Homo sapiens: one gene and its partners. The protein of the gene in region 4 interacts with the protein of the main gene of each other region in a pairwise test. Each region holds a gene or a part of one and is shown on either strand. Other genes may lie near its edges. The genes, in order: TMEM41A, SYT2, ERLIN1 and FA2H.

Region 1 (6,961 bases), on a different chromosome or scaffold from region 4:
TTCACTGTTTTCTAGTCCTGTCTTTTTCTAAATGTACTGTTTGTGCCCTGAGAGCTGCCTTAATAATCTCAGCATTTGTCAGAACTTGAGGGAAAGGAAGACTTTCCATGACTGGGTTTCCTGCAGCCACAAAAAGCAGGTAATGGAGAAAGCTAGTTTCTGCGATTCTTGTATTTGACACAGCCACGAAAGGAAGGGGCAATCATCATTTTATTTGGTGACAGCCTCTTCTTGAGTATTCTGTAAAAGCTAGACTGGCACTCTGCTTCTTCCCTATGCTTTCCTGCTGCCCATCCGGTAGCTACTCCTGTTACTACTGACCCCACTATACAGGGAGCAGAGAGAGAAAATGAAGATGAAAATCTGGCTTCTGAGAAATTATTTTGGTAAGAAGCATTGAGAGTGGAAAGCTTAAAACACCATTTTGGACTGTCCAATTTTCAGCCAATCCTAATTCCCACTGGCAAAGGTAGTTGAAAGTTAGCAACATGTTCAAACAAGCACCACACAGAACACTTACATCCATTTATTTGGGAAATTGCTTCACCTGTAAACTCACAACTGATAAGGCACATTATTGCAAAACTGTCGGGGTGGAGGGAGGGAGGCAACTCTAAGGATCCTGAAAAGGGGCAAAGGGCACACACTTGCGATGATGTGGAAAACATGTTTCTCCTTCCCTCCCCCTACTCCAGAACACCAAAGGCCACAGTCTTCAAAGTCTGCTGCCTCCTTCCCCCACTCTCGTTATCAAGGCTTCTTTTAAAGAAACACGTTTTAAACAATGAAATCCTCGGTGTGAAAGGATCATACCATAACCAAAAACCATCACCTGGGGATGCACTCTTCCTATGGAACGTGAGTAATTCCCAAGAATTCATGTAGAACAAGAGGCATAGATTAAAGTCTTGGCAAGACTCTTGGCCAAACCAAATCATCAACCCAGCAGATGATGCCCAAAAGCAGCAGTCTGGTAAGTCCTGATGAGTTACTCCTGTGGGGTGCAGGATCACAGGGCTGGTCAGTTTAGGTGCCAAGGTCCTTCTGTCTTTGGAAGCATTAATCCAGGTCTGTAACAATTCTGTACTGCAGCTACAGGAAGTAATGACAGCTATAGGCCATTAAGATACAACACAACAAAGTTATCAGAAGCCAAGGTTTCCTCTTTGAATTAAAAGATAAATTAAAAGATACAATTGTTTAGTTACTCTAAGCAAATACAACAATGAAAAACATTCAGAGGGTATACTGCCTGATGGCCCCATATACTGAACCCATTCTCCTAGCATGACACAGAACGGATTCCTGCAGAAAGGACAGATAAAATGTTTGCCTGGTCATGATTCAGGTGAGTCAAGGGCCCTGCCCCATCCAGATGGGTAAGAATTTCTCCAGAACATATCCATGACATACAGCGTTTGCTCCATTCATATTTAATAGTCTGTTTGCAATCAGCTTAACTGTCAGGACATGCGATCATAAGGAGGTCTGACATACATGGTAATGTCAGTGTGTCTGAACACAAGAGCGTGACAGAAATCATCATGTATGTGAGCAACACGTGGAAGTCCTAGGCAGTTCGTCAACTTGTTTCACTTGGCTTATGAAGAGGTAGGTCATCAGCAAAGAAGTACAAAAAAATGCTCTTCAAGAGACTAACAGAAGATGAAGAGCGGTGTCAGTGATGTGAGTTCCCGTGTCATCATTGGTACTAAACATCCACAAAGATGCAACAGGAGGACATCTGTCCCAGCAGCCTGTCACTCTGCAAAAGCAGTACTCTGGACAAGGACAATCAGCATCTTCTCCCAAGGCAGCTCAGGGGCTGGCATGAGGCAAATACAACAGGCTATCCCGAACTCCTTATTAGACCACAAAATACAAACAGCATTTTCTTTTTTTCTCTTTTTTTTTTTTTTTTTGTCAAGACAGTGTCTCACTCTATCACCCAGGCTGGAGTGCAGTGGTGTGATCTTGGCTTACTGCAACCTCTGCCACCTTGGTTCAAGCAATTCTCCTGCCTCAGCCTCCCGAGTAGCTGGGATTACAGGTGCCTGCCACCACGCCTGGCTAATTTTTGTATTTTTATTAGAGACAGGATTTCACCATCTTGGCCAGGCTGGTCTTGAACTCCTGACCTTGTGAATCACCGGCCTCGGCCTCCCAAAGTGCTGGGATTACAGGCGTGAGCCACCGCGCCCGGCCACAAACAGCATTTTCTAGGAGGCATCTGTTGCAGTGTCTGCTACACCAGGGCTGGTTTGAAAACCTGATGTAATACACCTTCAAGAGCAGAGTGTCCTTTCTGAAAAGACACTGCACATTGATGCACAGTGTCCACATCACCTATAGAAGGCAATCAAAAACAATGAGGGGCTTTAGAGGACCACATCCATTACACAAATAAGCAACTGAGTCCAGGGATGTGGCAAACAGAAAATCCAGATCATGTGTCTTTTCTACTGTGTATATGATTAGCAGTACTTGTTTCATTCAATTGCAGATGTTTCTGACTAAATTTTTTAATGAGGGTTCCAGGAATTAATGCCACCATGGCAATGGCCAACAGCTTAAAGACAGTGTCCCAGGAGAAAAGAGCATCCAGAGAGGTTAGGGTTGACAGGATGGACCCTGTCTGCACACAGATGAAATTATATGGGATCAAACCTGGAAGAAGAAAAGGACAAAGCACCTGTTACAAGCAGCAGCAAAATTAAGAAAATAATAATTCAGAATGTCACCAGGAACAGTGACTACGGTTTTTTTTTGCTTGACTCTTGACCCTTATACATATTAACTCTTTCCCTTCTTTCCTTCTTTTCTATTATTTTCCCTCCTTTCCTCACTTCCCATATATGCCTGTCTTGTTCAACAAAAGAACTTGAGATATTTACACAAATAATACATGCTACTATAAGACAATTTTAAAATAGGGCCAGGAATGGTGGCTTATGCTTGTAATCCCAGCACTTTGGGAGGCCGAGGTGGATCACCTGAGGTCAGGAGTTCGAGATCAGCCTGGCCAACATGGTGAAACCCCGTCTCTACTAAAAACACAAAAATTAGCCGGGTGTGGTGGCATGTGCCTGTAATCCTAGCTACTCAGGAGGCTGAGGCAGGAGAATCACTGGAACCTGGGAGGCAGAGGTGGCAGTGAGCCAAGATCTTACCACTGCACTTCAGCCCAGGCGATAGAGCTAGACTCTGTCTCAAAAATAAATAAATAAATAAATAAAATTTTAAATAGGAAAAGCAAAATGCGTGCAGAAGAATACAAGACATCAGGGAGTACAGTTAGTAAAAAAATGCATAAGGTTCACCTGTTTGCCAAAAGTGGGCCCCAAATTTGGTTCTGAGTACCCAACAGCCAAAGTAAAGAGAGAAGTGCCATTGTTGACAAACAGTTTTTTAAAAGAAGTACTATTCACATTCTGTACTGTCTCAAAGATGTCATCAAATCCACTGGATTCCAAAAGTCTGGCTGGCTGAACAGGCTGGCTGCAGAACAATCAGCTGGTGACATTGTTAAAAAACCACATCCTTGGGCTCCACCCCAGAAATTCTGGGTACTTGGTTCTGGGGTAGTGCCCAGGAACCTGTATTTTAAAAGCCCCTTCTCCACTCCCACCCTGAGATTCCGATTGGTTTGGAACACTCTGATAGTCCATTTCTCTTCTATAGGAGAGGAAGTATACAGGAGATGAAGATCCCAGACCCCTCAGGGTCACACAGCTTGTGAGACAGAGGACAGGAAGCCTGGTCTCCAGAATCTTGCCAAGCCTCATGCCACCTAGGTAATTAGAAGCAGCAAACCCCCACTAGCTGAGGGCCTGAGGCACTTTGTCTGAAAGCCAATATGACCAAAATTGGCCGTGGTAGATCTTGCTTCTATTTAAGATCTCCATTTCTCTCAGGTATCTCCTATGAATAGCAGCTGCTCAACCACAGATTTGCTCTGTTTGACCTAGAAGCCCTGAATCGTCTTTCCCTCTAGGATCTAAGGGAGGTTTAAGAGAAGAGATCCTTGCCTTAGGCTTAAGGAGGGTGGTTTTCTTCCAGTATGGAGAAAGTAGCAAACACTGATTTTATAGGATGTTAGCACTTTACCACTCTGATAAAGGTGGTCCAAGGCCCATACTTCAAGAAACACTGCTCTAGTCCCAGCCCCTTATCTGGACGAGTAGCCCGTTCAGACTAAGTAGCTCGCTGCAGGTCATATAATTGTCAAAGGCAAGGAGAAACTTTAGATATCGTCTAATTCAGTAGACTGCAAAACTCAGGATCCAGCGGAATCCCTTTTAGGGACTAACTACTTGCATCACCTGGAAAATGTTAAAAGATCCTGATCCCTGAGTCCTACCCCAGAGATGATTTAGTTGATGTGTGGTGTAGCCTTAGCTTAGGGATTAAAATCTCCACAGGTGATGTTTTGTTGTTTTGTTTGTTTTTGTTTTTTTGCTTTTTTTCTTGAGATGGAGCCTCACTCTGTCACCCAGGCTGGAGTGAAGTGTCATCCTCTCAGCTTACTGCAACCTCCGCCTCCCAGGTTCAAGCCATTCTCCTGCCTCAGCCTCCCAAGTAGTTGAATTACAGACGCACACCACCATGTCAGGCTAATTTTTGTATTTTTAGTAGAGATGGGGTTTCACCATGTTGGCCAGGCTGGTCTTGAACTCCCAACCTCAAGTGATCCACCCGCCTCAACCTCCCAAAGTGCTGGGATTACAGGTGTGAGCCACTCAGCCCGGCCTCCAAGTGATTTTTAATAGGTTTGCAGGCGATTCTTAATAGGTTTGCAGTTTGAGAATGACTGGGTTTGCAGTTTGAAAATGACTGACTAGGAACTGGATTAAAATGCATATTCCCAGATTCCACTCCCAAGATTCTGATTCAGTAGGTCTGGAGTAGGCCCCAAATCTAGATTCTCAACAAGCCCCCTGACCCTAACAATCTGATGAAGGTGGCCCAAAGCCCACACTTTGAGAAACACTGCTCTATTCCTAGCCAGGTGGTCCATTGAGGGTAAGTAGCTTGCTGCAGGTTGTGCAATTGTCAAAAGGCAGGAAGGAACCACACTGATGCCAGCAATTCCTAAGGCAGAACTTAATCAAAACAGGGGCCAAAAACCAGACAGGAAGTCCCTTGCTCTGCTCCTTTCTTCTGTCCCCACTCAAAACTCATGGACACACACCCTCATTCCAACCCTGCTCTTCCTGCTAGCATTTACTGAGTACTTACTATGGGCCAATTTGTATACTTTACACAGACCATCTCTTCTAATCCCAGTGCCTAGTGCATACAGCCATGCAATGGACAATCTTTATTTAGTCCAAAAGTATTTTTATGGGTTTTCATGTTGAAGCCTGAGCAGATCTGAAATCAGGAATCATTTCTTTAGATCATAAGGCTTGAAGTCACACTTTGTGAGCCTGTGTTCTCAGAAGCAGGCACATGCTCACGTGGCCAATAACCCAGGGCAGACCCCCAGCGTGACAGCTCTGAAGACTCAAACCTACCCCACTAGCATCTTACCGATAAGAACTGAGAAGAAGAACTGCACGATGGGAATGTTCAGAATTGGGGCCGAGAGGTTCAAGAACCAGTTTGGTGTCATGGGGAAAAGTCTCAAAAACAATAAGAAAAAAAACAAGCTGTTTCTGTTCTCCTCCACCTGTAGCCAAAGAGAAGAAAGCTGTTAAGAAGCAGAAAGGGTCTCCAGGTGTTGAAAACCTGCTGGTGCCAGGCACTGTTCTAGACACTTTACATAATCTGTTCCCAATTCTTCCAACAACCCTCCAGGGAAAGACTGTTTTCCTCATTTTAAAATAGACATGCTGAGGATCAGAGAAGTCAAGAACTTGCCCAAAGTCACAGAGCTGGTAATGATGGAGCTGGGATTTGATCCCAGGTCTATGTCTCCTGAAGACATCAAAAGAACCCCTAGGACCTCCTGAAACAGCGTGGAAGAGTACTGTGGGAAATCCCTGCCACTCGCTTCTCTCAAGGCCATGCACGTAGCGACTGTCTGGGGTCCCAGCTCTCAGATGTGACCCCTCCCCTTACCTTTCTCTGCAGCAGGGCCACTTTATCAGGAAAGTAGGACACCACCAACTGTTTGCCAAAAATACTGGAGAGCAGGTAGCAGCATGTGGCACCCACCGAGGTCAACACACAGCACAGCAGAAGCCCCAGCCATGGCCCAAACAAGGCACCAGCTAAAACATTCTGCAAATAAAACAAACCCTCAGGCATGTGAACATCTGGCAGCTACCAGGCACGTCATCTTGGAGCCTGAGAGTCATAGGTTCCCTCCTCCTTCACTGCTTTTTTCCAGCTAAAACCCAATTGCGTTATTTATTTATTTTTAAGAAACAGGATCTCGCTCTGTCACCCAGGCTGGAGTACAGTGACATGATCATAGCTCACTGCATCCTCGAACTCCTGGACTCAAGCGATCCTCCTGCCTCAGCCTCCCAAGCAGCTAGGACTGTAGGCACACACCACCACATTCACCCACTTTTTAAAATTTTTTGTGGAGATGGGGTCTCACTGTGTTGCCCAGGCTGGTTTCAAACTCCCGGACTCAAGTGATCCTCCCACCTCAGCCTCCCAAAGTGCTAGGATTACAGGCGTGAGCCACTGCCCCAGGTCCCAATTGCCATTTAAAGAGGTGAATGAAAAATTATGAAAAGGCTGGGAACTACACCTGCCGTCAGTCTCTTCACCTTGAAAATGAGGATAAGGATAAAAGCCTCAGGGGGCAGGAGAGAATGAAATGGGATCTGTGGCTGTGGTAGATTCTGCAATGACTGGGGCTCCAAGAAAGTAGAAATGAAACTCACGAGTTATTTTTACTATTTCAAAAGATGAACACAAACCATGAATTTTCCCTTGGTAAGACCACACAAGCTATGTAAGATGTCTTGTTTCTTTGCTTTTTGCTGGAATTACATCTATGCAG
Region 2 (7,026 bases), on a different chromosome or scaffold from region 4:
TTATGTCAAGGTCTTCCTCCTTCCTGACAAGAAGAAGAAATATGAGACCAAAGTCCATCGGAAGACACTGAACCCTGCCTTCAATGAAACCTTCACCTTCAAGGTGCTGAGGGCTGGAAGGGTGACTCCAGCTCCCTGCCTGATCCCAATTCTCTGCTGAGTTCTACAGACCTTTCCTTGGTCCTTAGCCATGGCTCAGCCTGGAACAATGGCAGCCTTGACTGCAGGGCTACCCCGGCCTCTATGGAGGATCGGGATCCCTCCCACCCCACCCTCACACTCTGCTCCCCAAAAGCCTTGGTCTTTGTCTGTCTCGGCACACTAACCTGGACCCTGTGGGCTGGAATGCAGGCCCCTGCCCATAGCACCCCTGGAGGTGCGTGAGTCGCTCTGGCCCCCTCTGATTCTGCTTGTGCCCTGCAGGTGCCATACCAGGAGCTTGGGGGCAAAACTCTGGTGATGGCCATCTATGACTTTGACCGCTTCTCCAAACATGACATCATTGGAGAGGTAAAGGTGCCTATGAACACAGTGGACCTCGGCCAGCCCATTGAGGAGTGGAGAGACCTGCAAGGCGGGGAAAAGGAGGAGGTAAGAGCAGAGATGAGGCCAGGTTGGGCAGAAAGACGAATGTACAGGTGGGCTTCCACCTCTTGGCATGATGGAAACAGGGTGGGCTTTGGAGGCAGACGACCTGTGTTAGGATCCCAGCTCCACACTGCCTGGCTGTGTGACCCTGGGCAAGTTGCTTACACTCTCTGGACTCGGGTTCCCTCCTTTAGTCTTTTTTTACAGATGAGGATTCATTACCTGCATAAAGCGCCTAGCGCAGCGACTGGTATTTGGTAGGTACTCAAATAAATAAAAACACCATTATTATTGTTACTCCTAAGCTTCTGCTATTACCTAAGGCCAGTGATTCACGCCTCTGTGCCTCAGTTCACCCACAAGAAAAGCTCATGTTTGTTCTAAAGGATACTCAGCAAAGGGACTTGTCCTCCCAGAACTGCTACAGCATCCATTCACTCACTAAATATTTGCTGAGCAATTGCTGTGTACCTAAAACTCCATTTTAGCCATTCTTCCTTCTGGGCATCAATCATTTGTCTTGGCCAGGGCCCTGCTACCTGGCACACTCTAGGCAGTGATGGAGGGCTGAGTAGAGAAGCTTAAGACATCCTTTTTTCCCTTTTGTCCCCTGTGCCTGGGAGGAAGGCCAGCACACCTGAACCAGGACCTGTGTGATGTCGTCAGTCTTGCCCTGGGTGGCTTTGACTTTGAGCAGCTTTGACTCTGCAGTGTGGTGTTGGCCTTAGGAATTAGGAGCCCTGGGTCCTCAGCCTGCCTACAGTGCTAAATTGTTGTGTGACTTTGAGCAAACCATGGCCTCTGGGAACCTCAGTTTCTCATTGGTTACAAAGAATTCTTGTCTTGTTTACATCAAAGAGTTGCAGTGATAGTAACAAAAGGGATGCAAATTGCTCCGAAAACCACAAATCATACTACAAGTGGAATGGTCCACAAGGAGAGATCTTGGTGGGTGGGACTGTTAAGGGAAAGAAGGCTTCTGAGACATTCAGTCCCCCAGGGCCCTTGGTGGTGGACACGTGGCTAACCCACCCGCTTCTCGCACACCTTCCCACCTTACCAGGGCCTGGGGTGGGAGCCCAAACATACTCCCAACCTCCCAGATCCCAGATCCACCCAGGGATCCCTCCCTCAGTCCTGCCACCGCAGCTGTCCTCTACCCCCCTCATCTGTCAGCATCCTCAGCCCACGGCTCCTGAGGTCCCAACCTGTCACTTTCAGGGACTTTGTTGCACTGCATCAGGGGGACCCAAGGTCAGATGCTGGAAGACCTTCTCGGCCATCACATATATGGGGACTGGTGATGAGGGAGGCAGGGACACATCACTGCCTTGCTAATTTTGGCAAGAAAGAGGTCAGCCATGAGAGAGGCACTAGGATGGGTGAGATGACCCAAGTCCTGCTCTTCCCCTGGACAGCCGGAGAAGCTGGGCGACATCTGCACCTCCCTGCGCTATGTGCCCACGGCCGGGAAGCTCACTGTCTGCATCCTGGAGGCTAAGAACCTCAAGAAGATGGACGTGGGCGGCCTTTCAGGTACGTGGAGAGCTTCTGGCTGCCATTGGGTGGCACCAGCGAGCCAGTCAGCACCAAGTCCCAGAGTTTGCACACTCCAGTGAAGAGGAACACTTTGCTGCCCTGGGACTGAGATGTCTCCTCGAGGAGCGGGGGAGCCTTAGCTTCCCAGGCCCTCCTTTTCTCCAAGGGCCCCTTGTCCCCATCAGAGCTGCCTTCCCAGCGCTCTCTGGCCATGCACTGTGGGCTACAGAGAAAAGGATCAGAGAAATTTCATCCCCAGATAAGTTTGTGACTTAGGATTTTACTTCTCCCAGGGAAATGAGCAGGGCTTAGCCCAAAGCATGACACCACAATCGAGACATGTTTCCAGAAGAGGCTGTAGGCTCTGCTGGCTCTGCCCTGGAAAGGGGAGGGTGAGGCAAGGGAGTGGAAGATGCTCTGAATATCACATTTACCTGGCAGTGAATGGGGCTGGCCCATGGCACAGGGCTCTAGTGGATGAAGCCTGCTGCCTCAGCTGCCTTCCCAGAGAATCAGCCCTGGGCATGGGCTCCAACCAGCGCGTTTCAGTGCCAGCCTGGCTCTGTCACTGACCCGCTGTGTGACCTCGGGCAGGTCATTTCCGTTCTTTGGCCTCAGTTTCTTGTCTGCAAGATTAGGGGGATCGGATTGGGATTATGACCCAGCAGATGTGTGTCCTGACTTCAGCACTCCCCACCCACTCCCCAGTACAGGATCACAGATGAATCCCCAGACTCTTTCTCACAAGGCCTTACTTAGACTCAGAAATGCCCTCCACCCAATGCTTCAGGAAGCCACAACCAACTGGTCACAGTTGGTCCTGGAGGTGAAGCCTTTTGCCACCTTTGAACTGGATGGCATGACTTGGGGCTTTCTGAGGGCCTGGTCTCAGCGGAGTGAAGACCCCCTCTTGACCGATGCTCTGGGCAGGCCTTGGTACATTCGGCAGGAAGGCTGGGGGCTAAGGGGAACCTCTCTGGGGTTGGGATTCTCCCTCCGCAGACCCGTACGTGAAGATCCACCTGATGCAGAATGGCAAGAGGCTCAAGAAGAAGAAGACAACCGTGAAGAAGAAGACCCTGAACCCATACTTCAACGAGTCCTTCAGCTTTGAGATCCCCTTCGAGCAGATTCAGGTGCTGGAGCCCTGGGTTCCTAGGCATGGAGCAGGGTTTGGGGAGGCAAACATGTATGGGGAGGTTGAAGAGAGGGAACTCACCTAGAGACCATGGAACAGCCTTTCTTGGTAGGGGAAGGCTCGAGGTCTAATGGTGCCTGGGTGGGGCCTCCTTCCCAAGTGCTTCAGGGATCCCCCTTTTCTGAGGAGATAAACATGAACTAATTCAAAAAATTCTGCAAATCATTCGTTTAGGACTTGAAGGACCATGGTCATGCACACAGATGTATGGGGGTATAGCAAAGGTGCCAGAGGGGTTGGGAGCTGGCTGAGAGGGTGGGAGTGGCCGCTGCCACCTCCATCCTCTCCAGCCACATCCTGTCTTGGCCATCCCTGCCCCACTTCCACTGCTCTCTAGGTCTTTCCCATCTACTCCTCTGATCTGCTTCCTCTCCTCTCTCCCTCCACCCTTCCAGCCTTCTCTATTTTTCCTTCCTTCTCACCAGCAAGTTCTGTAAATGTTGGAGATGAGGTCTGGTTTTCACCATTTCCAGGTATGAGTGGGATCTGGACGTGGTAGGACAAGAGACCCACCCACCCACCCATTTGGGCGGGAAGTCAGGCGCAGCTGGGGGCTTGCAGAGTGGTCGGTTATCATGGAGTCTTGGTCTCTCCTTCTTTGTAGTGAGCTGATCCCACCCCCTCTCCTCCCCGCAGGAGGGCTGGGGGCAAGGGTACAAGAGAATCTTCAGAGTTGGTTCTGTCATCTATGGAGATGTGTATGATGTTATTGATGGAATACTTCAAGGGAACACTGGGCAGCTCAGTGATAATGTTAATCCAAGAGAAGTCCTCATTACAGAGAATTTTAGATCTAGAGCATCCTGACCCAGGCATCTCAAATTCAACATGCCTAAAACCAATGTAATGTTCTTCTTCCTACCTCTTCCCAGCCAAGCCTGTTTCATCTGAATTCTGTTTTCAATGAATGACCCCACAGTCCATCATTTACCCAGTGGCCCAAGTCAGAAACCTGGGCGTCACCTTAGACTGACTATTTCCTTTTTCCTTTCTCATTTATCCAACATACTTTACTGAGCATTTCCTAAGTGGTAGGCTAGGGGATGAGGAAATAAGTGTGTAATCCACACACTCCTTGCTCTCAAGGACCTCACAGTGGGAGGGCACCAGTAAACAGTCTAGTAAAGCACAGTGAGACGACAGCTTCAATGTCCATGAAGCGGAGGACTGTAGTGAGGCTTCCCAGAGAGAGCTTGGTCCTGAAGGACAAATCTGAGTTGGCTGGAGTCACAGGGGAAAAAGGCATCGAGCATTCAGCAAATCCAGCTGATCATCAAGTCCTCTTGATTCTCTTCCTAAATACCTCTCCAACCTGGTTTTGACTTCCCATCCCCACTGTCCCTGCCTTGGTACAGGTATTCGGGATCCATCCTCCCAGACCCTCCAGCATCCTCCAATGGGTCTCTTCCCTGCCATTAGGCCCACTCCTCCTCCAGTAAATCTTCCAACTCAATGCCAGGGCTCTCTCTCTCAAATGTCCACGACACTCCTTTTCTTAAAGTCGTCAGGAGTCCCCTACTGCTTGCCTGAAAGACAAAATGCAGACTCCTTGGCTGACCCCAACCTACTCTACCAGCCTCATTTCCTGCCTCACTGCTTCTCACCCTATACCTCAATGACTGAACATCTAATGTTTCTCAGATGCCAAATGCACTCTCAGGTCTCTATGCCTCTACCCAAGCAAATCTGTTTTCCTGGAATCCTCTTCCTTCTTTTCTCCTCCTAGAGAAATTCTCAGACTTCATGTCCCAGTCACCTCTTCTGTGAAGCCTTTTCTGATTGGCCCCAGGACTGTCACCTCCTCTAAGTTTCCACAGTACCTTGTGCCCATCTCTCTAGCATAACCTTTATCAATTCATGTTGTAAGTTTTCAGTTACATGTCTGCTGATCTCATTGAGGAAGTGAAATTCATCTTTTCACTTTTCCTTCCCTCTTCTCCCCCTCCAAGTGCTTAACAGGGTCTAGAGCACAGTACATCCTCAATAAATGCCCAGTGGTAGAAACAAAGGCTGCCAAAGGCGTGGCCTCTGCCTCCATGTCAATTCAGTCTTCACTGGAGCAGAGATGAAACCAAGGAGCCCCAGGAGGCCTTACCTTCCCAATCATTGGGAGTAGAGGTTGATGGAGGATAAATTTGGTCATGGGATCCCACGTCTCTGTCTGCCAACTCCCTCCCTCGTTTTCCTTGCAGAAAGTCCAGGTAGTGGTCACCGTGCTGGACTATGACAAGCTGGGCAAGAACGAAGCCATAGGCAAGATCTTCGTGGGCAGCAATGCCACGGGCACAGAGCTGCGGCACTGGTCCGACATGCTGGCCAACCCCCGGAGGCCCATCGCCCAGTGGCACTCGCTCAAGCCTGAGGAGGAGGTGGATGCACTCCTGGGCAAGAACAAGTAGACAGCAGCGGCTGGGACCCCACACCTTTCACGGACACTGACAAGATCCAGAGCTATCAATACCTCAGTTATGCAACCTTAGAGGTTTTCTTTTTTCTTTCATTTGTTGGGTGGTTGTGTCCTTGTTTTTCCTTGTTTTTCTCTTTTTAAAGACCAACTTCCCTTTGATGGCTGTGTGAGGAGAGTCCCCTAAGAGGTGAAAGAGAAGCCTGGCTCTGTTCACGGTCCCAGGAGCTGTCCTTGCTGCATGCCCTGTCACAGTTCCCTCGACTCTTTCAAAGCTTCACATCTGCCTCACCCCAAGCGAGGCTCTCTACTGGCACAAACTTGCAGCAGTTCCTGTTTTTTGAGCCTTCTGGACCAACAAAATGGCAGCACATCCTGCTTCCTGACAGGGAAGGCATCACAGTGGCCAATGATCGTGTGTGTGTGTGTGTGTGTGTGTGTGTATGTGTGTGTGTGTGTGTGTGTGTGTGTGTGTGTGTGTGTCTTTGAGCATTTCTCTTCATTCCTGGAATGTGTGTGTGTGTGTGTCTCTTTGAGCATCTCTCTTCATTCCTGGAATGAGCCATGGACAGTAAAGTTGTGTGGGAAAAGAAGGCTCTTTGGGGACCCTGACATGAAGAAGTCCACTAAGTGGGAGATCTTCTCTCATCTATGGCAAAGTCTCAGGATCCTGTTCAGATATCGGGGCTTTCATACTCCTGTTGGTGGCTATTTGGGAGGCAGCAAGATGTGAAGACTGGATGTGTTCAGAACTAGGACCAAACGATGCCATCAAATACTTCCTCCTGCCAGTCATGGTTTCCCCAGAAGTGTAGTTCCTGGGACATTCATGGATATGAGCTATTCACTAGTTGGGTCAGACTAACAGGGACTCTCAGTCCCAAAATCTCACTCTTATTGACAATAAATATCAAACTATGAAGAAACAGAAGTCCCATTACCAGAAAGACCAAAATTAAACTCCTGGATCTTCACCCCATCCAGTGGGAAACACAGATGCTTTCTCCCTTTCCAGAATATAAGCAGCCAAGTTCATTTGCATTTATTCCCCATTGTGCTTTTGCTTCTGTTTCTCTTTTAAGTGGAGCAACACTGTCTGAAGACACGTTATCTGTGCAGAGCCAGAGAACTTTAAAAGGAAAGTTTAAATGTTCTTAGTTCTCCTGAGGTCCAGGTAAGAAGGGGGTGGTAAGAAGAGGATGGGGGACAGATGGCTGAGATCCCTTGGGAGGAGATATAGGGGAGCACTGGAATTCCCCCGACTCCCACTCCTTGCTCCCTTGGCCCTCTGCCCTCC
Region 3 (7,026 bases), on a different chromosome or scaffold from region 4:
GAAGAACATACTACATTGTGCTTGCCAATCTTGGGAAATCTCACAGATTTTCAAATATGTGAAAACATAAACACTTACTGTACAGATACCATGAGTAAGTTGCATCAAAAGAGATTTTAAAAGTAAAAGTGGGAAGTCCCACTCAGGCACCCCTCTCCCTCACAGGAGAGAGAGCTATTCTCCTTTCTGTTTCTTTTGCCTATTAAACCTCTGCTCTTAACCTCAAATAATAAAATAATGCCCCCATCCCACTCACATACATAGAGTGAATGGAGGAAAAAAATGGCTAATGAAAGGAATATATGTATTGAAACTGACCCCTGGGTTTTAAGCATATATTATATATCAAAAGCCAGTCTATAATATAGTCACTCCCTTAAATAACATAGGAAAAAAAAAATCAAAGATGACCATTTTCATCATTCTAATTTGCCAGAGTAGTTTTTCAAGAAGAAAAATGGTATATAAATATATGGAAAGGAAAAAAATATAATAGTGACTGTAAAAATAGTAACCCAAAAATTACTAGAAGGCAGTGAATTCAAGTTGTAGATATAAGATAAATCTACCAAGAATCAATCACATTCCTCAATGATTAAAAAAAAAAAAGACTACATATTGAACAGCATTAAAATTCATTAAATCCATTGGTATTAATTTAACTTAGGATATGAGTTTCTCCCCTAAATCAGAAATTCTAAAAACCAAAAAGGCTGATATGATAAAGTAAAGCCATAAACTATGTTTCTATTTTTAACTTATATTGGAGGATTGCATGAGGCCAGGAGTTTGAGACCAGCCTGGGCAACACGGCAAAGGCCCATCTCTACAAAAAATAAAAAAATTAGCCAGATGTGGGGGTGTGTACCTGTACTCCTAGCTACTTGGGAGGCTAAGGCAGGAGAATCACTTGAGCCCAGGAGTTCAAGGCTGCAGTGACCTATGATCATGCCACTGCACTCCAGCCTGGGCAACAGAGGGAGACCCTGTCTCAAAACAAAACAAAACAAAACAACATGTATATGACCACTTAGGTGCCTGATATAGCTTGAAAATATCGATAATGAAAACTCATCTGGAAGATTAAGCTGGCAGAAACAGCAAAGGCCATTATTTTTTAAAAGATGATGTCTCTTGCCAGATTTTAAAATAAAAAGTTGAATTATCACAACCATATGGTAATGTGTTAAAAATAACAAAGCTCAAAAACAGCCTTGAAATTCTTAAAATGCATTCCAACTATTGTAAAAAAAATTTTATAACAAGACAAAAGCAACCAAAGCAAAGGAGCTCTTCTCTTCTCAGGGTATGCTTAAGTTATTGCAAAATATAAAAATTATTTTAAAATTTTTTTAAACCCTAAAACAATGGAGATCTCTACCACTTTAAGAACGTATAACAAAACTACATTTTTTCAATCAATAACTTTTTATAAAAACAGCAAATAAATATAAGTAAATTCAAAAGATCCTTCTGGCTGTTGTGCAGAAAATGAAGTAGACAAAGGTAAAAGTGAAAGTGGGGAAAGAAGACAGGCGGCTACTGCTACTGCACATGTCAAGGTTAGAGTTGGTAGCTTGGCTTGAGATGACAGTGAAGATGGAGGTGTGGTCAGTTTTATTAATACATGGATTTTGGTGGTGGAATCTGCAGGACATAGGGACTGATTAGATGCTGAGGGTGAGGCGATTGTCAAAGATGCCTCCTACACTTCTAGATTGGCTTGAGGGGAAAGAGTTACCATTAACTGACAAGATGAAAAACACAGGAGAAAATTCGATTTGATGAGAAAAGACCAAGGACTCAATAACTAATGAAAGAGTAGGAATGGGAAGATCAATGGAACAGAACTAAGTTCAGAAAAAGACTCTAGTATATAATGGAATGCAGTATGTAACATAAAAACTATTTCAAAGAAGGGGGAAGATGGAAAAATAAACTATTCAGTAATTACCGCTGTTACCCAATTTGGGGTTGAGGGGATGGAGCTGAAGGCCTACCTTGCAACTGAGATCAAAATGGGTTGCAGATGAATTAAAAGATTTAAATCTAAGAATACAACTGTAAAAGCAGATACAATTTTTATAATTTCTAATTTTAATTGCTATACTTTTAAGGTGGTGAAAAGCTCTTAAAACATGCCAGCTCAGCAACACACCATAAAGACAAAATCACTGAAATTACTATGTAAAACATGAACACTTCAAAGTTATCAGCAAGGAAAAAACAAAGTTAAATGACAAAGAAAAAATTTGAAGAAAATGTTTCCTATAAATATAAAAAAGAGCTACAATAACTAACATATGAAAAAGTTTATTTTTAAAAACGAATTCTACCCCTCTCAAAGGGTAAGGTTCAAAAACAAGTTCTCTATATACAAATGCTATTTATTTATTTATTTATAGACAGGGTTTTGCTCTGTTGCCCAGACAAGAGTACAGCATGAACACAGTTCACTGCAGCCTCAACCTGCTGTGTTCAAGTCATCCTCCCACCTCAGCCTCCCAAGTAGCTGGGACTACAGGCACATGCCACCACACCTACCTAATTTTTTAAAAAAATTTTTTGTGGAGAAGGGGTCTCACTATGTTGTCCAAGCTGACCTCAAACTCCTGGGCTCAAGGGAGCTTTCCACCTCAGCCTCCTAAAGTGGTGGGATTACAGATGTGAGCCGCTATGCCCAGCCAAAAATAGCTTATTAAAATCAGTTAGAAAAACCATTAACTACAAAAATGAGCAAAACCAACAATTTATAAATGAAATAAAAACAGCTAATAACCTAGGGTATTCAACTTCAATAATTAACACAAAATAACAGACTAATTTTCTCCAAAAGGATTAAGAGAGAAAGGGAAAGCTTGCATCTGCTAATTATTTGGGTACAATCATGCAATCAAATGTGTAAGAACTACAGCTTACCAACACTGCTAATGAGGGGGGGAGCTGCTAAAATTTTTCTAAAAGGTGATTCGGTAGTATGTATCAATAAGCCCCCAAACAGGGCATACACTTTGATCATCAATCCCACTTCAAGAATTTATTGTAAGAGAGGGATTTAAAAAGATGTACAGAATATATAAGCTTGGTCATTCCAACATGCATACAGTAGTAAAAAATTTGAAACCATAGAGATTCACTAAATATAACCATTAAAAGTAATGATTTACCAAACCTATATTTTTGTTTTGGAAAGATGTTCATAGACAATGTTAGTGAAAAAAGCAAGTATGGTATGATTCTGCTTTAGTTGAGCATGTATGCATTTATATCTACAAACATTTGTTCATATACATTAAGAATAGTCGAGAAAGATATAACAAATGATGTTATCCCTGCATAATAAGATTACTGGTGAATTTCATTTTATTCTTCATCATTTTCCTAGTATCTAACTTTTTTCTACAACATAAATAACGTGTGTGTATAAAAATTCCAAATTTATACAGAACAAATCAGTAAGAAAGAAAACAATCCAACAGAAAAATGGGCAAAAGATATGAATAGGCAATCAGCAGAAGACAGTATAAATGACCAATAAATGTATCAAAAGATGTTCAACCTCATTAACAACCAAAGGAATGCAAATCAAAGGGAGATATAATTGCCCACCCATCCATATGGTAACAATCAGTATGTCTGATTGCTTCCAATGTTGGTGAGTTCATGGGTCACAATTATTTGCACATATTGCTGTTAAGAATGTACATTTGTACAGTCAGTTTGAAAGATAATTTGTACATACAAGAACATGTGTCATGAATGTTCATTACACTATTGTTTAATAGCAAAAAACTGGGAACAGAAAAATGGCTAAGTAATATAAGGCAAGGAATTCTAAACAACAGTTGAATGAGCTAGATCTCTGAGTAACACCCTGGGCAGAATCTAAGAGCTGACCTTCACATTCACTATCTTTAAAACTAAAAAGCTACTCCAGCTACAACTGACTTGAACAACTCAGAGGATTTTACAAAGTTACCTCTGGACATTTCAAACGACCCCTTAACTCTGGTGGCTCACCCTCAAGCGCCTGAGATAATGACATTGCATGAATGAGGCCATGAGGAAAACCCCACCTATCTTTCAGTCTTGTTTTTGAGAAGCACGAACACATACAATCACAGTGAGCGCACACTCTCAGTAGCAGTGGTGCTGAGTGTAAAGAATTGAGAGACATGTGATAAGCTTTAGTTGCAGTAATGTTCATCACAACAATCAACAATCAACTGGTCTCCTAGAGCTCCTGAGAAAGGACACTAGAGAAGCCTCAATATAACTTCTTAGGTCATCTGGATCCAGAGCAGTGGCTTTCGAATGTTACTGACAGTGGACACAGTAAGAAACACATTTTGCACTGACGTCCAATATAAACACCTACCCCGCCACACTGTGAAACACAAGTGTCACAGAATATTTAAACTTATTACATACCATTTCTTTTCCTATTCTATTCCATTTTATTTAAAATGCTGTTCATGACTCACTAAAGTTGATTTTACAACCCACAATCTGGAAAACACAGTGACCCAAAAAAAAGCAGGGGTAAAACCTCTCACCATTCTATTTCCCAACGTCACCATCACCACTACCACTAAATTCACCTGCTACCTTGTTTTTACTAGGGCTGTCCCTCCCACTTGAAATACCTTTCTCATTCTTCCCCCATTTAAATCCAATTAATTTTTCCAAACCTACTTAAAATCTCAACTCAATCACAGCCCTCTCCTAGACACACTGTCTTCCAATGTTCTCTTACTCTTACAGCAATAATCATTCAATAGATTCATCTGTCAATTAATACTTTGTGATAACTATTTTGTCCAGGATTGTTCAAATTTTACACTTGAACTCCCTTTTCATAATCTTACTGAGGGCAGGGATTATGCTTACACTGATTTATAACCATTACTGTATCTTAATGCTTCATACATGGCAGAAATATGAATTTTACTTCCTTGTAAGAGCCTCAGCTTATCAGTTCCCTCTAGGAGTTCACAAATGTCACCCATAGTAAGCTACAAGAGTATTTTATTTTGGCAGAGATCTAAAGTCAAATTGAGAAAGGTATTCTATAAATCACCATAGCATCTCAAATAATTGCTGAATAAAACAATCCAATGAAAGGAGGAACAAACTCAAAGCTCTCAAAATCCCCAGAGAACTTCCCTAGGAAAAGAACTTACCTGTATAGTGAGACCTGGGGCCATGAGGTTTAAGTCTTTCTGCAGAGCTTGCTTCAGGTTTTCATCTATTTGATCTGTTTTTTAAGCCAAGAACAACAGATCTCATGATAGTCAATTTTTTTTACATTGTATTCATAATGAAACAAAACTAATCATTATTAGACCTAAAGTTTCCACAGTACTATTCTTTTACAGAGCTTAAACTGCCTTTTCTTCCCTTTTGTGTGGGAAAAAAATTGCAAGGAATTATCTAATAAAGAAATTAAGGAACGAAGATGACAAGCAGATAGTCTGTTTATCCAATAAGTTTACCCACTAAATGTATTACTTAACTATGGATAAGCTTTTTTACTGGGTAACTTATTAGACTTATTTACTGGATAAACAACTACTGGGTAAAATATGTTGATCTAATAAATGGAGAATCTGGATCTCTAGTATCTTAATTCAGGGCTCTTACTCAATATGTATCCTCATTCTCAAAGAAAAACAAATTTCTATGTTCAGTAAATCTTTACTCAAATTCCCAAATAACTAAACTTCATTTCCATGGATCTCAGCCTCACTGTTATTTTGGATTTAAAGAGAGAGAGAGAGAGAGACAGAGAGAGAAGCTCATAGAAAAGTATTTGAAATATACACAGCATGAACACTTGGGCTTGTAACTATGCACTTTCTATTCACCTCAATGGTACTTTCGCTATTTAAATGACTGGTGGTGAGACAAAGCAGGACCCATCAGTTTCCTCACATGCCACTTCAGTGGTTGACAATCACCAAAGAGGACTCAATTGGTAGATTTTAAATTGATTACTCTTGCTTATTCCTTCATCTTAGAAATTCACTAAAAATTTCAGGAGGGAAAAGTGAGCTACCAACAGCAACAACTCATTCCCTGGTCAGAACTTCCACTATCATAAATGAAAAGTAAGTTGTACAGAAGTGAGTTAAGAAAGCAGGGCTGATACTGCAATCCTTAGAAAGGCCTTTTGTAAACTCGTCCTTGGTTGGCACCTAGGAACTTGGATTTGTAGAAGGGTCCCACTATCCCCAGAGCTAATACAATTGACTTGCTGTGAACTGTTTATACAATGTGGCTTATGCCAAACACCTGCATTCCTTCCAGGAGTCTGGAATTTTTATGTGGTAGGCAGAGGGTGCCTACATAATCAGCCCCCAGTGAAAACCCTGGGCAATGAGTCTCCAATGAGCTTCCCTAGTAGACAACATTTCACATGTGTTGTCACAGCTTGTTGCTGTGGGAATTAGGCACATGTTTGACTCTTGGAAGCCTGCACCTGCTTTCCTCTGCATTTTGCTGGTGTGCCTTTGCCTCTCGCTGATTTTGCTTTGTACCCTTTGGCTGTAATAAATCTTAGCTGTGAACACAACTATGTGCTGAGTCCTGTCAGTCTCCTACCAAATCATCAAAAATGGGAGCCTCAAGACACAGGTTTCTAAATTTTTCAAATTATCTATTAAAACATCAACAAAGCTAATTTTCACTAAGTTATTACAGTAAAAACAGAATACAGTCTGAGTAGTTTTTCCAATCTCTAACAAGTTATATAAAAAATTTTAAACTTAAGATAAAAAATATTTTAAAGACAATTGCTCTATGATAAATTCAGAAGAAATGCTTAAATAGCACTAAGGTTTACCAATATAACCTCAATAAGTAAGCTGAACAAAGATTTCCAATTGGCTATTTACATACATAAGAATTAAGACACTTACCAAACAATTCAATGTAAACTTCCTGAAGTGTGTGGGCACTGCAGAACTGGTTCAGCTCATGGTGGATTTTATTGAAGATTAAGGTCTTGTCATAATCTGCAGTATA
Region 4 (7,026 bases):
TTCTTCTTTTTTTTTTTTTTTTTATAGACAGAGCCTTGCTCTGTTGCCCAGGCTGGAGTGCAGTGGTGCAATCTTAGCTCACTGTAGCTTCTGCCTCCTGGATTCAAGCTATTCTCATGCCTCAGCCTCCCAAGTAGCTGAGATTATAGGTGGGCACAACCACACCCCGCTAATTTTTGTATTTCTAGTGGAGACAGGTTTCACCATGTTGGCCAGGCTGGTCCCAAACTCCTGACCTCAAGTGATCTACCTGCCTCGGCTTCCCAATCCCCTCGGCTGGGATTACAGGTGTGAGCCACCACACCCAGCCCCTTTATTTTCTTTATGGCATTTATCACAGTTTGAAATCTTTGCCATTTATTGATGTCCTTGCCTGTCTCTGCACAGCTGTCTGCACCAGGGAAGAGAGTAGAGGGAACCCTCTGTATATGCCCCGTACATGGAACAGTGCCTTGCCGTTCCCAGGAGCTCGATGGTAGTTGGCAAATAAATCAATGAACACACATAGGGGGCTGGGAAGCACAGGCCCATCCTCACCTGACTTCTGATGTGCAAAGTGGTGCTTGACGTGGTGGGCCTTCAGGCTGTACAGGTAGGAGCCCTTGTGCGGCGAGCCAAAGTGCAGGTAGTAATGGGTCATGTCATAGAGGACGTAGCCCAGGAGGCCCCCCGCAAACACAGTGCCCCCTACTGCCTCGGGCAGGATGAGCTGCATGCACAAGTAGAAGACGCCGATCACCAGGGAGGCTGGCACAGGGGGGAAGACCAGGCGGGAGCCGTCGAAGGGTGCCTGCAGATGGAGAGGCTTGGGCATCAGGAGGCAGCCAGGGGCCCCGGCAGCTGGCCAAACCCTGGCCACTCCCTGCAGAGGACAGGGGCACAGCGGCCCAGACATTCCACTGCGTAGGCTTGGCACCTTTGGTGGCTTTGGGGAGGGCGGGCCACCACGTCTGGAAGATCTGGAGAGACTGTCTTACTTCCCATTTGTGAGCCAGGAAGGGACCTGGCAGATTGCAAAGGAACATGGGATGGGCGGGATGGGCAGGATGGGCAGGATGGGTGGGGTGTGCTGGCGGCTCAGAGCCCATCTTATAGAGGCCACTGTGACTCTGGAATTTGTCAGGTGCTAGACAGGTATCCCATCCCTAAATGCCGTGCCCCTGGCTAGAGGGGCATTCTGGAGACAGGGCACCTAGACTGAGGCCTGATGTTGTCTGGGAGAGCAAGGCACTGAGGGCAACTGAGGTTAATGCAGCCTCTGTGGCGGGATGACCCGGAAGTGTCACTAGAGGTGTCCTCCCCACCCCCATGTCCAAACAGGAGGCCTTTTTTGTTCCAAGGGGGTGTCGCCACAGTGAACCAGAGAACACCGCTTCACCGTGGCCCTCGAGCTTCAGAAGCCAAGGGCCTGGCATAGAGGTGAGATCTTAGCTATGGCTTGGTGAGGAGTCTGAGAAGAGAATCCTGCAGCCTCTCTGGGCTGGAGGAGAGAGAGAGAAAGCAGGTGACAGTGACACAATGAGATGCTGGCGTGGGCCTCCCTCCCTTCAGACCAGGAACAACAGGACCAGTGATGTGCTGGAAAACCAGCTCTCAGGAAAAGGAGGAAGGGAGAGAGCTGGGGAATGAGGGAGGGGGAAATAAAGGGAGGGAGGGAGAGCCCTGATTGGTAGTGTTTGCCAATTCCTGCAGTGTGAAAACTGCCCTGGCGCTTTCAAGCGCTGAGGTGGCGTCACTGGAACAGAAACAGGAAAGGATGTGCATGGGTGCTCTTGTGAGCTGGTATGGGCCAGATCCGGGTCACAGCTGGATCAGGATCCTTAGATGGATAGGTCTGGGGATCTGAGAACACGTTCCTGATTGGAGCCCACGTGGCTACAGGCCATACAGTCTCCTCGGGTCCTCATGGTGTGGCAGCAGGGGACTGGACAGACTGGGGTGGAAGTGTCTCAAAAGAGGGAGCCTGAGACAGCCCCTGGGGCCCCAGAATGGCCTGAGCAGGTTCCCAGAAGGTTCTGGTGTCCCCTGTGGATGGGAAAGATAGCGGACAGGGCAGTGGATCTGAAAAGGCTTCACAAACAGGGCAAGGGACACAGAAGCAGATGCAGTGAGCTCTGCAGAGCAGAGGCCAGGTGAGGCTGGAGGACACAGGCCAGGCCTGGGCTGCGCTACCTCTGAGAGCATACCTGAGAGACAGGTTGGCCCAGGACTGGGCACCCACCCTGATACTGGCCCCTAGGAAAGCCCCCTAGGATGCAGATCAACTCTGGGGAGAGCCGGGAGGACCACAGCCAACCAACCTGAGAACTGTCCCAGGCGGCCGATCAAACCCCGAATCGGCTCATCGAGATGAACCGGATTAAGTTGCTGCTGGGAAACCAAGGTGAAACCCACGTTCAGTATCAGCGACATCAGGGTCTAAACTGGTGTCCCGAAAGTATCATATCTGCCATATTTTCTCTGATTTATGCCCAGCAGAGAACAGAGTGTGGAGACGGGCTGGGGAACAGCCTGGGATGGGCCAAGGACAGCACAATGCAGGGACAGAGAAGCAGCGGGGGGTACAGGGGAGGTAGCTTCCTTTGGGCAGACCTATCTTCTCGGGCCAGCTTCTGGGACTGTCGTGGAGTCCTTGAAGGGCCTCAGGGGAAGGGTGATTGAGAGCGCAGACTCTGGAATCCCCAGAATGGGGTACGACATCCTGGCTGTGCCAAGTGTGACCTGGGGCAAGTTCCTTAGTCCTCCTAGGCCTCAGTCTCCTGCTCTGTGGAACGGGGAGAACCATGGGGCTGTTTTCAGCACAAGCTCCAGGAGCGCAAGGCTTTTTGTTGTTTTGTTCAATGATGTCTAGAACAGTGTCTCGCACACAGGAGGCACTCACTGGGCATTTGCTGAATGAATGAACGAATGAATGAGTTGTTTTGAGGATTAAAGGTGATGCGTAAACAAGGGTGCAGAGGGCCTGGGGTCAGCTTGATGCTGCACACCCACGCTGTCCCCGCCTGGCTTAGGTTCGGATGCCCAACCCAGTTGCCCCGTGAGTCACATCAAACGTCCCGTCCCTCCCAACCCACAGCCAGACTCCCAGGAGGCTCCGCAGCACCTGAAGCTGCGGCTGGCTGCCGGGCCCTCTCGGGCTGCACATGCTAGGTCCGGGCTGGGACCCCGCCCCGCTCACCTTGTGGTGCTGGCCGTGCATGACGAAGTGCAGCATGATGAGGTAATAGCTGTCGCTGGGGGGCTTCATGTGGAACAGGAAGCGGTGGATGAGGTACTCGATGAGGCTCCAGAGGAATGTCCCCAGCATGAAGAGCCCGGGGAACATGGACTTGGGCACTGCCACCGTGTACTCTGCAGGGTGGCAGGGAGAGCGAGGTGAGGACCGGTGCATAGCAGCCTGGTAGCTCCAGGTGTCCCTGCCTCACCATCCCCATCAGCTCGGGAGCTGCTGCCCTCTGTTGGACAGCTACAGGGCCAGGCCATACTGCTGGGGTCCTTGAGTCAAAATGGGAAGGAGGCTGTAGGACTCTGGTCTGGGTCTGGGAAGTCCTTTACAGGAGTGATGGGCCACTGGCTGGAGGCCTGACATCCTCCTTACAGAGGCTGTGGGAGGAGTGGCTGTGGCTGGGGCTGGGCCTTTACCTGGAAGGGTGACCTTGCCCCAAGGACATTGGAGAAGAGAAGGCGACACTCCTGAGCCAGGGCGTTGTTATTATTATCTTGAGACAAGGTATCTCTGTGTCGCCCAGGTTGGAAGACTGGAGTGCTGGAGTGCTGGAGGGCAGTGGTGTGATTACAGCTTACTGCAGCCTTCCCTTCCTGGGCTCAAGCGATCCTTCCACCTCAGCTTCTCAAGTAGCTGGGACCACAGGTGCATGCCACCGCACCCAGCTAATTTTAAATTTATTTTTTATTTTTATTTTTTTTGTAGAGACGAGATCTTGCTATGTTGCCCAGGCTGGTCTCAAACTCCCAGACTCAAGCAATTCTCTCGCCTTGGCCTCCCAAAGTGCTGAGATAACAGAAGGGAGCCACTGTGCCTGGCCTCCAGGGTGTTAATGATGGGAAGTGTGACCCACCAGGGACCATGGGGCAGGAAGGACAAGAAAAAACAAGCACCGAGATCTCAACAGACAAGACCTGAAATCATAGCACAGGAGGAAGATGTGAAAACACTGAAGATGATCAGCCTAGGTGGAGAGGAGAAGACTGGAGACAGGGCACCATCTTCAAGCACATGCTTCCCACCACCCTCCGGAGACAGCCTGCAGTCCTAGCGGCTTTCAGCTCTTTCCTCCACCTCATTCATTCTTTGACCTCATGGAGATTTCAGCTCTCATTCCTGTTTGCTCCATATATTCATCCTCATCCTTTTTTTTTTTTTTTTTTTTTTTTTTTTTTTGTGAGATAGAGTCTTGCTCTGTTGCCTAGGCTGGAGTGCAGTGGTGTGATCTCAGCTCACTGCAACCTCCACCTCCCGGGTTCAAGTGATTCTCCTGCCTCAGTCTCCTGAGTAGCCGGGATTACAGGTGTGTGCCACCACACCTGGCTAATTTTTATATTTTTAGTAGAGAGGGGGTTTCACCATATTATCCAGGCTGGTCTTGAAATCCTGACCTCAAGTGATCTGCCCTCCTCAGCCTCCCAAAGTGCTGGGATTACAGATATGAGCCACCGTGCCCAGCCCATCCTCATCCTCTTATCTTTGTTTCTTTTCTCTACAAACCATAGCTTTGGCCATATCTTCTCTCTTCTTAACGGCTTTATCTAAATCTAATTCACATCCATATAATTCATCCAAATAAAATATATAATTCAGTGCTTTTTAGTACACTCACAAAGTTGTTAAACCGTCACCCCAGTCAATTTTACAACATTTTTATCACTTCCCCGCCAAGCCCCTGTACCCATTAGCAGCCACTCCCCATTTCTTCTCAGACCCTCCCAACCCTAGGAAGCTACAGGTCTACTTCCTCTTTGTTGGATTTGCCTATTCTGGACATTTCACGTCAATTGAATCATATGACATATGGTCTTTTATGACCGGCTTCTCTTACCGAATATGTTCAACATTCACCCATGTTGTAACATGTATTACAACTCCATTCCTTTTTAAGACTGAATGATATTCAAACTTTATTCATCCATCCATCAGTTGAGGGACACCTGGGCTGTTTGTAGCTCTTGGCTATTGTGAATAGTGCTGCTATGCACATTCGTGTAGAGGTTTCAGTGTGAAAAGATGTTGTCCTTTCTCTTGGGTACAAGCCCAGGAGTGGTACTGTTGGTTCATATCATAACTCTATGTTTAACCTTTTGAAGAATAGCCAGACTGTTTTCCAAAGCTAGCCATTCTCTCTCTCTTTTTTTTTTGTGAGGCAGAGTTTCGCTCTTGTCACCCAGGCTGGAGTGCAATGGGACGATCTCGGCTCACTGCAGCCTCCACCTCACGGGTTCAAGTGATTCTCCTGCCTCAGCCTCCCGGGTAGCTGGGATTATAGGTGTGCGCCACCATGCCCAACTAATTTTTGTATTTTTAGTAGAGACAGAGTTTCAACATGTTGGTCAGGCTGGTCTTGAGCTCCTGACCTCAAATGATCCACCCACCTTGGCCTCCCAAAGGGCTGGGATTACAGGAGTGAGCCATCATGCTTGGCCTAGCCGTTCTCTTTTAACCCTTACTCCATCTCCCTCACCTGCACCCATGAACCCTCACCCCTGGGTCAGCGCAGGAACCTGCCTTTGTACCCCATACCCAAGCTGCTGAGCATGGAGACTCACACAGCTGTGGGTCTGGCACCTTTAACCTCTGCAAGACCCTAGACACAGCCTGATGGATGATCCCTGTGCATCTTCAAGTTCAGCTCCCTCCCCACTGCCCTTGAACACGCTCTACTCCCCTTTACTGCCTCTCCTTCCACCCAGCTTCCTACTTCACAGAGAAGAGAGGCCCTGGGGTTGGGGAGGAACTATCCCCTCCACATACTTCCCCCAACTTCCAAGCACACCACATTCTGCCGGTACCCTGGCGCATCCTCCTTGCTTCTCAGGGAAGAGGTGTGCACCGGCACGCGGGCGCTGGATGATCAGAGCAACAGTAACGGCAGATGTGTCCTGACTGATTCCTGTGTGCCAGGCACCGCCCAAGGGCCTTCCATGGATTACTTCCTATTTCATCTCACCACAGCCTTACAAGGGAAGCCCTGCATTGCCTGCATGATTGAGGACGTGGAGGCCCAAAGTCCATGACTTGCCAGGCTCCCCCTGCTCGGCAGTGCAAAGCCCTCAGCCGCCTCCTCCCACCCTCCCTCCCAAGGGACTCCTCTGGGCTCCTTCAGTCTCTCCTTTTCTCCTGGCTCTTCTGCTCATCTTTCTGAGGTAGGCAAGACTTTCCCATCATGGACTCAGCCCCTTCATCATCAAGGCTCCTAAAAAGTCAGGCTAGGCTGAACATGGGGGCTCATGCCTGTAATCCCAGCACTTTGAGAGGCTGAGGTGGGAGGATCGTTTGAGCCCAGGAGTTTGAGGCCAGCCTGGGCAACACAGTGAGACCCCGCCTCAACAAAAAGTAAAAAAATTAGCTGGGCATGGTGGCTCATGCCTATAGTCCCAGCTACTGAGGAGGCTGAGGCAGGGGGATCACTTGAGCCCAGCAGTTCAAGCCTGCAGTGAGCTGTGATTGCACCATTGCACTCCAGCCTGGATGACAGAGCAAGACCCTGTCTCAAAAAGAAAAAAAGAAAAGAAAACGTAGGTTGGACTCATGGCTCCACTTTGCCACTTCCCATTGGCTTGTCAAGTCCTTAAAAATCTGTCTTCTGGGCCGGATGCAGTGGCTCATGCCTGTAATTGCAGCACTTTGGGAGGCTGAGGTGGGCGGATCAGCTGAGGTCAGGAGTTCGAGACCAGCCTGACCAACATGGAGAAACTTCCGTCTCTAAAAATACAAAAATTAGCCGGTCATGGTGGTGCATGCCTGTAATCCCAGTTACCTGGGAGGCTGAGGCAGGAGAATCGCTTGAACCC

What was found.
Region 1: the proteins of FA2H (region 4) and TMEM41A interact in binary tests that used the Homo sapiens proteins (3 or more experiments, as listed by UniProt).
Region 2: the proteins of FA2H (region 4) and SYT2 interact in binary tests that used the Homo sapiens proteins (3 or more experiments, as listed by UniProt).
Region 3: the proteins of FA2H (region 4) and ERLIN1 interact in binary tests that used the Homo sapiens proteins (3 or more experiments, as listed by UniProt).

What each region holds. Positions count from the first base shown.
Region 1 is NC_000003.12:185,489,091-185,496,051, forward strand, and holds the end of TMEM41A (transmembrane protein 41A precursor), read right to left. Parts: intron 6,226-6,961; coding exon 6,064-6,225; intron 5,672-6,063; coding exon 5,533-5,671; intron 2,668-5,532; coding exon 2,447-2,667; 3' UTR 511-2,446; downstream 1-510.
Region 2 is NC_000001.11:202,595,455-202,602,480, reverse strand, and holds part of SYT2 (synaptotagmin-2), read left to right. Parts: coding exon 1-103; intron 104-423; coding exon 424-591; intron 592-2,006; coding exon 2,007-2,124; intron 2,125-3,129; coding exon 3,130-3,263; intron 3,264-5,517; coding exon 5,518-5,724; 3' UTR 5,725-7,026. UniProt on the Homo sapiens protein: Exhibits calcium-dependent phospholipid and inositol polyphosphate binding properties. May have a regulatory role in the membrane interactions during trafficking of synaptic vesicles at the active zone of the synapse.
Region 3 is NC_000010.11:100,169,025-100,176,050, forward strand, and holds part of ERLIN1 (erlin-1), read right to left. Parts: coding exon 6,921-7,026; intron 5,258-6,920; coding exon 5,184-5,257; intron 1-5,183. UniProt on the Homo sapiens protein: Component of the ERLIN1/ERLIN2 complex which mediates the endoplasmic reticulum-associated degradation (ERAD) of inositol 1,4,5-trisphosphate receptors (IP3Rs).
Region 4 is NC_000016.10:74,715,810-74,722,835, forward strand, and holds part of FA2H (fatty acid 2-hydroxylase), read right to left. Parts: intron 3,352-7,026; coding exon 3,179-3,351; intron 2,765-3,178; coding exon of another isoform or gene 2,441-2,764; exon of another isoform or gene 791-2,440; coding exon 538-790; intron 1-537. UniProt on the Homo sapiens protein: Catalyzes the hydroxylation of free fatty acids at the C-2 position to produce 2-hydroxy fatty acids, which are building blocks of sphingolipids and glycosphingolipids common in neural tissue and epidermis.